Homo sapiens: one gene and its partner. The protein of the gene in region 1 purifies or fractionates together with the protein of each later gene. This does not show direct contact. Each region holds a gene or a part of one and is shown on either strand. Other genes may lie near its edges.

Region 1 (4,117 bases):
TAATTTATTAATAGCATGTCTCACAGTTCATTCTCAGAAATGCTTGGATATGGCCGATAAATTGAAACGTCATCCTAGTTAAAAGTAACGTTTTTAACTGGCTGGAGAAAGGTGACTTGGGGTTCTAGGAAGGGACAGAGGAACAAACATTCTGTTGGCTCAGCACGCCCAGCCTGTGTTGGGCTGGGCACCTTAGAGGACCTGTTTCAGGACTGCGTGACTGGCGTTTTGCTGGGAGTAGCCCAGGTGTTTTAACCACTTCCTGAAGAACAAGGTTCGGTAAAAAGAGGCTGGGGCGTAGGCGTGGGTTCCTGTCCCTGCCATATGCTGTCTTCCTGATCTTCGGAAGTCACTTCAAGCACCTGATCATCAGTTTCCTTATCTGTAAAACTGGAGTAGTAATGTTTCCCTCCAAACGCCGTCGTATTTAATTCATTTAACAGCAGCCACTATTATTCCATTATACAGACGAATAAATAGACGTTATGAGAGGGCAAAGTGCGCTGATCAGGGCTCATAATAATTCTAACAGCTACTGTTTAGGAACCAAGTACTCAAGCAGCCTGTGCACAATCTCTAATTTCTAGAAGAGAAGACGGATACTTGGAAAGAGAACTTGAACAATGTCATGGAACTCATAAATGGCTTGAGAAAGGCTGATCCTAGGAAATCTGCTTCAGAACCCGCGCTCTCACTGCATAAGGCGTATTTCAAGGGAGGAACGGGCAGGCATCTAGCACCACTCTTCGGACTCCCCATCCAGTGCTCTTTTCCTCTTTTCGTTACACTGCACTGCTGGTCGGAAACCCATCGTGGAAGTGGATCAAACACAACAAAGGGCAGGGGGCGTTGGAAAACCGGGCGAAGTCGCGCAGACCGAGACGACCCACCGGCCCCAGCAAATCACCAGGGGCCGAAATCCAGTGTCCTCCTCCCTTCAGCCCAGAAGCCAGGTCACCTTTTAGACTTGCTCTCTTGGCGGGGAGGAAGCGTGGAGCCCCCTGGTCCGGCTAAGAGCTTACGTAAGGCCCGCGGGCGGCTGCGCCCCGGTCTCCCATGGGTGTGCGCAGAGCCCCCGGGCCGGAGCAGGCCTTCCCCTGTCCGCTCCCCCAGTCTCTCGGCCCAGGACCACGGGGGAGTTCAGGACCACCGGCCCCACGCCGGCAGCGTCCGCGTTGGGCGGCGGCGTCCCCCGCAGCCACCCAGCTTCCCGGGGGAGGAGCAGCGCATCGCGCAAGCATCCGGGAGCGGCGGAGGGGGCGGGAGGAAGGGCGAGAGGAGGAAGCGGGATTTAAACGAAAGGCGGTGACGCCACACAAAAGATTTCTATAGGCTCCAGGGAGGTTACGGCCGAGGCGGCGGCGGCGGCGAGCCCGGGGGCGAGGCGCGGACGGGAACAGGAAAAGCCTCCGGCAGCCCCTGCGGGCGGCGGCGCAGCCACGGCCGCGCTCCGAGGTGAAGCCGCGCGCGGAGAGGAAGCGGGTGTTTTCCCCTCTGCCTTTCGGCCCCCGCCCTTCCTTTCAGTTTCTGCCCGCTCGCTCGGAAGTTGGCGGTTGACAAAAATGGCAGGAGCCGGGGCCCGGGCCGGTTGCCGCAGCGCCGCGGGGACCTTCTGAGTTGGCCCGGTGGCAGGGAGACTCGTGCAGGGGCGTCCGATGCGCGGGGCCCGGGGCCTCGGGAGAGCTCAGCTGCTGCGGGCCCCAGACGAGGCGACAGGGATGGACTTGCGTAGACAGCCAGCGCCGGGCCGCCGGGCGCGCGGTCTGGGAGGGCGTGCCGCCGCGGCGCCGGGCCGCGCTCTGTGAACCGGCGAGGCGGGAAGGGGCCGCCGTGGTGCTCGGCACGCCCGGGCGTGTGGCGGGCGGGCGAGAGCTTGAGCGCGATCCGGGCGGCCGCTGTGCGCAATCAGTGCAGGCTCCCGCCCGACTCTGACTCGGCGCGGCCGCGACAGTGCCGGCCACACCCTCTGCCCCGCTGCCGCCGGCGCCGCTTCCCAAGAGCTGGAGGCAGGAGATGCGCCCGGGGCGGCCGCGCGTCCCAGAGAGCCAGCCCCGGCCGCCGTCGCGGGGAAGTGCCGCCTGGTGGGGTCACGGCGCCTGAAGCCCACGTGCGCCGCCGAGCCCGAGGTGGCCTCGAGCGCGGCGGCTGACAGCACAGCCCGCCTGAGCTGCCTCCCGCGCTCCTCCCCGAGGAAAGGATTTTGATTTCAAAGAAAGGAAGGAAGGAAGGACAACTCCCAGCTTCCCCGTCCCGCCCTCCCCGCTCCGAGGGCCGCGCCAGGCCATGCCCAAGAAGGCGGCGGCGGCGGCGAACCAGCAGAAGGGACTTTCCTGGCAGCCCGGCGACGAGGAGCGCGGACAGTGAGTTTGCTCTGCCCCGGTTCATGGTTCCTGCAAGCCCTCTAGGAGGCCGAAAGCTGCAGCCCCTCCCCTTGCCCCGAAGAGCCTTCCGCGTTCTCTCGCCCTCGGGCCCACCCCGCGCCGCCCGGGCTCCCGCCGCCGCAGCCCAGTGCCCTCTGCCCGCGGCGGTGGATGGCATGATGGTGCGGGGAAGGCACCGCGGCCTTGGCCAGCTGAGTCGCGACGGCCGCCGGGGCGGCGGCAGTGGCCGCGGCAGCGGCGGTGGTAGCGGGCTCCCCAGCGGCATGCCAGTGCCCCCCGGGCGCGATGGCTAGCGGCAGCGCCGGGAAGCCCACTGGCGAGGCGGCTTCTCCGGCTCCTGCGAGCGCCATCGGCGGGGCCAGCTCGCAGCCGCGGAAGAGGCTGGTATCCGTCTGCGACCACTGCAAGGGCAAGATGCAGCTGGTGGCTGACCTGCTGCTGCTGTCGAGCGAGGCGCGGCCCGTGCTCTTCGAGGGCCCCGCCTCCTCTGGTGCCGGCGCCGAGTCCTTCGAGCAGTGCCGGGACACCATCATCGCGCGCACCAAGGGGCTCTCCATCCTCACCCACGACGTGCAGAGCCAGCTCAACATGGGCCGCTTCGGGGAGGCGGGGGACAGCCTGGTGGAGCTGGGCGACCTGGTGGTGTCGCTGACCGAGTGCTCGGCCCACGCGGCCTATCTGGCCGCTGTGGCCACGCCGGGCGCCCAGCCCGCGCAGCCGGGCCTGGTGGACCGCTACCGCGTGACGCGATGCCGCCACGAGGTGGAGCAGGGTTGCGCCGTGCTGCGCGCCACGCCGCTGGCCGACATGACGCCGCAGCTGCTGCTGGAGGTGTCGCAGGGCCTGTCGCGCAACCTCAAGTTCCTGACGGACGCGTGCGCCCTGGCCAGTGACAAGTCACGGGACCGCTTTTCGCGGGAGCAGTTCAAGCTGGGCGTCAAGTGCATGAGCACCAGCGCGTCGGCGCTGCTGGCCTGCGTGCGCGAGGTGAAGGTGGCGCCCAGTGAGCTGGCGCGCAGCCGCTGTGCGCTCTTCAGCGGGCCCCTGGTGCAGGCAGTGAGCGCCCTGGTAGGCTTCGCCACCGAGCCGCAGTTCCTGGGTCGCGCGGCAGCTGTGAGCGCCGAGGGCAAGGCGGTGCAGACCGCCATCCTGGGCGGCGCCATGAGCGTGGTGTCGGCCTGCGTGCTCCTGACCCAGTGCCTCAGGGATCTGGCGCAGCACCCCGACGGGGGCGCCAAGATGTCGGACCACAGGGAGAGGCTGAGGAACTCGGCCTGCGCCGTGTCTGAAGGCTGCACCCTGCTATCTCAGGCTTTAAGGGAGAGGTCTTCGCCCAGGACTTTACCGCCAGTGAATTCCAATTCTGTGAATTAGCACCCCACCCCCATACCCCTTCTTCCACCCCCAGACTAAAGGAAGATACTTACTCTCTGCCCCTCTCCATTTATACCAAAGAAATCATAGGTGAAACCCCCTACCCTCCCCAACGTTAAATGCTCGAGAGGAATCTTCCACAAGGCAGGGCCATGCACGCAACCTGCACACGCACTTGGAGGGCCCAGGTGTCTCTCCACCAGCCCCCATGCAGTAGGGACTGGAAGATATGTCATCTGCTGGTTGTGTTATCACTCCCACCCCCTACCCCAGCCCGTCTTCCGGAATTTCTCAACTAAATTTCATTATTGGGCAGGAAGGAGGTCATGGGTTCATTTCATTTTTGTTTTTTGTGTTTTTAA
Region 2 (4,138 bases), on another chromosome or scaffold:
ACCTTCACCTTCGCGGTCTCCCCCCGCCCCTCCTCCGCAGGGTCCCCTACCCCACACCCGCTCCCCGACCCCTCAGCCGCCGACGAGCCCAGCTGGCCTCCAGAGTCTCCCAGCCCCGGCCCCGGCCCGTGGAAGTGGGTGCGCTGGTGCTTGCGGAAGTTGGAGGAGTTGTTGAAGGTGCGGTCGCAGAGCGTGCAGCGGAACGGGCGCTCGCCAGTGTGGATGCGGGCGTGGCCGCTAAGCACCGAGGACTGGGTGAAGCCCTTGCCGCAGATGCCGCAATGGTATGGCCGCTCGCCAGTGTGCACGCGCTCGTGGTCTCGCATGTCTGAGGAGCGGCGGAAGGGCTTGGCGCAGAACCTGCAGGCAAAAGGCTTCCCCACCGCTGCGCCCGCCGCCGCCGCCGCCATCACCACCTCCGCCCTCTCCGGGGCCACCCCGGGCCTCTGTTCTGCAACGGCCGCTGTGTCCGGAGGCCTCCGAGAGGTGCCCGGCTCCACCCCGTGCCGGTGCTGGTGCCGGAGCAGGGGCGCCAAGGCCTTGAAGGCGCGGGGGCAGAGCGCGCAGCGGTAGGGCCGCTCCCCCGTGTGCAAGCTGTAGTGCGCGCGCAGGCTGGCGGGGCCCGGGCAGCTGTGGCCGCACACGTGGCACCGGCTCGGGTCCCCACCCTGCCCGCCTCCCTCGGCCCCAGCCAAGTGGCCATGTTCGTGGAACAGCAGCTCGGAAACCAGCCGGAAGGCAGCAGGGCACAAGGCACAGTGGAAAGAACCTGGCTCCGGGGGCTCAGGGACCAGCGTGGTGTCCGTCACCTTCACCACCTGGATCTCGATGAGGTCACTCGGGGGTGTGCCAGGCCGGCAGTCATCAGGCACCAGGACCTGGGCAAGAGGAGAAGAAAGAGGAGCCTGTGGAACCTGCCTCAGGACCGCCCCAGCACGCCCCAATTATTAAAGCTTGGGCTCCTCTGTTATTTTCAGACAGGGCCTCACTCTGTTGCCCTGGCGCGATCGTGGCTCATTGCAACCTTGACCTCCTGGGCTCAAGCGATCCTCCCACTTCATCTCCCTGAGTAGCTGGGATTACAGGCATGCACCACCACATCCAGCTAGTTAAAAAAAAATTATTTCTGGCTGGGCACGGTGGCTCAGGCCTGTAATACCAGCACATTGGGAGGCTGAGGTAGGCAGATCACCTGAGGTCAGGAGTTCGAAACCAGCCTGGCCAACATGGCAAATACCGTTTCTACTAAAAATGCAAAAATTAGCCAGGTGTTGTGGCTGCTGCCTGTAATCCCAGCTACTCGGGAGACTAAGACACGAGAATCGCTTGAACCCAGGAGGTGGAGGTTGCAGTGAGATGTGATCATGCCACTGCCCTCCAGCTCAGGCGACAGAACAAGACTCCATCTTAGACAGCAAAACAAACAAAAATTATTATTATTATTTTTAATGTAGAGGGAGTCCCACTATGTTGCCCAGGCTGGTCTCCAACTACTGGGCTCAAGAGATCCTTCTGGCTCTGCCTCCTAAAGTGCTGGGATTGCAGGCGTGAGCCGCCGCGCCCGGCCCATCCTCCAGGATTCTGTTGTATCCTCATCAACATTTCCTCTCCTGTCCAAAATATATCATGGATCCCACCTTTTGTCCTCCACCCTAGTTAAAGCCCCATCACTTGGCGCCTCCAAAATTGAAAAACCCAAGGGCATCTCTGTTCCTATTTCTGCTGGCTTGTAACCCACCTCCCAGGAATAGCCTGAAGGTCTTTTGAAAATGTAAATCAGATCAAGTCATTTTTCGCACTCAAAACCCTCCAGTGGCTCCAAATGACTTATCCCAAATCGTCACTATAATATCTGTGGCGATGTAGCTCCACTTATCTCTCTGACCCCAGCTTAAACATAAGCCGGCACCCAGCTGACTTCTCTCGTCTAAATTTAGCTGCCCCACCCCTACTCTTGGCTCAATTTATAGAAATTGGCTCAATTTTTATTTCCTTTATAGAACATATCACAGTAACTCTCCTTTATTGTCTCTCTCCTCTCAAGAGACTGCAGGCTCCAAAAGAACACAACCCTTGTCTGTCTTGGTCACTTCTCTATTTACAGAGCCGAAGTAGGAGCTCAGTAAATGTTTGTTGAATGAATGAATGTCCTCAATTAGTCTAATTCTGAGTGGGGTAACGTGGAGGAAGTTCCAAAGTCACCTAGACCACCCACTTCTACCCCCAAATTCTCCCTTGGGCATTCGAGAAGCATCACTAAGACCCTTGAAGAATTATCCCCTACCCCGACATAGGTGCTCCAATCATAATCCCCCACGTTTTTCAGGGTCACCTTCCCAACCTTCTACCCTAGAATTAGCCCTAGAATTTATGAGGCCCCGCCCCTTACAAGGCTCCACCCAAATTATGCAAATTATCCCTGGTAAGCCCCCTTCCCTGGACCCAAACCCGTCCCACAAGACAACACCGTCCTCAGACTCCGCCCCCATCCAGGCCCCGCCCACCACCCATAGGTCCCTCCCCCACCCCGCCCACCATGACATAGTCTCCTCCCCTGCCCCGCCCCTCGCGAAACCACAAGAAGCCCCACCCCCAGGGCCATAGCACTAAATACCTCCCTCGCCCACCCCCTCATAGGCCACGCCCCGGACCCGCCCCCCACACTACGACCTCCTCCCACCTCGAGCCCCACGCCCAGGCCCCTTCCTTGCCCGCACCAGGTCCAGTGGCTCCTGGGATCGCGACTCCGGAGTCGGTGAGCTCCGACTCTGGGCCTCTGGGCGCGCAGCGGCCATCTTGTGCCCAAGCCCCGCCCCCAAGGCCAATGTTCGCTCTGAAAGGGGGTGGGGCTCGAACTGGCGTAAGAGCTACTGCGCAGGCGCAGTGCGGGGCTGCGAGGGGGCGTGGTGCAGCAGGGGGCGTGGCGGGGCGGGGCGTGGCGGCTGAGCCCGGGAGAATGTGAGTTGTTCCCTCTCTAATTACCTGTCTGTCCCTCCGAGGGTACGCTCTGTGTGGCGCTAGGATGCCTGTAACACCCTGGGAACAAATCCGAACGTTCCTTCTAAACCAACGCAGGCCGACTCGAGGCTCTGGCTGTCAGGGGAACCTCAGCAGAACTGAAGAAGCTTTGCTTTGTTTCCACGGTAAACGTTTTTGTGATTACCTCTGCACTGCTCATGACAACGTAATGACGCCAAGTTTATAAACGTCGGTGTAGGCCGGGTGCGGTGGCTCATGCCTGTATTCTCAGCTACTCGGGAGGCTGAGGTGGGAGGATCGCTTGAGGCCGGGAGGTCGAGGCTGCAGTGAGCCATGATCTCGCCACTGCATGCAGCCTGAGTGACAGAGACTCTGTCAAAAAAAAAAAAAAAAAAGGCAGTGTGGAGAAAAATATTCAGTAAACAGCAACACAGGTGGTCCTGGGAGGACGCAAAAACCCGCAAGCTGATGTTATGTTTGGGAGGAAAGAGCTCAAAAACGCGGGGTTTTCAGCAGCATCAAGGACGGGGCTCTTCTTAGCTGCCCCGTTTAGTCATTCTGGTGGTATCACCTTGGATAAGTCACTACACTTCTCTGGACCATTTCTCTTTCTTTTGTGTAGCACTGTAGAAGCATTGTGACAAACCACTGAGAAGAGACATGGAAGAGTTTGGAAACATCTTTAAATAGTTTTCTTGAAAGGGCAGGATAGGAGATACTTAAACATGATCCTAAGCATGATCATTTCATTCATAAATATATATGAAATTATATTTTGTGATATGTTGGTATAAAATAAAGATAAACACCACTTAGGCTGAATTATCTCCTCCTCCTCCTTTCTTCTTCTTTTATAGAGATGGGGATCTTGCTGTCTTGCCTTGCCCAGGCTGGTCTTGAACTCCTAGCCTTAAGCGATCCTTCTGCCTTGGTCTTCCAAAGCTATATTTCCCTTCTTTTCTTTTGATTTTAAAATAATTTTTTTTTTTTTGAGATGGAGTCTCACTCTGTCGCCCAGGCTGGAGTGCAGTGGCATGATCATGGCTCACTGCAACCTCTGCCTCCCGGGCTCAAGCGATTCTCCTGCCTCAGCCTCTTGAGTAGCTGGGATTACAGGTGCCCGCCACCATGCCCGGCTAATTTTTGTATTTTTAGTATA

Evidence for each region.
Region 2: the proteins of TLNRD1 (region 1) and ZNF784 purify together in Homo sapiens (co-immunoprecipitation; one large-scale study listed by IntAct). This does not show direct contact.

What each region holds. Positions count from the first base shown.
Region 1 is NC_000015.10:80,999,606-81,003,722, forward strand, and holds the start of TLNRD1 (talin rod domain-containing protein 1), read left to right. Parts: upstream 1-1,317; 5' UTR 1,318-2,536; coding exon of another isoform or gene 2,537-2,666; coding exon 2,667-3,755; 3' UTR 3,756-4,117. Other genes in the region: umcharacterized LOC128071545, read left to right, coding at 2,537-2,674. UniProt on the Homo sapiens protein: Actin-binding protein which may have an oncogenic function and regulates cell proliferation, migration and invasion in cancer cells.
Region 2 is NC_000019.10:55,621,767-55,625,904, forward strand, and holds the start of ZNF784 (zinc finger protein 784), read right to left. Parts: upstream 2,801-4,138; 5' UTR 2,796-2,800; coding exon 2,718-2,795; intron 879-2,717; coding exon 1-878. UniProt on the Homo sapiens protein: May be involved in transcriptional regulation.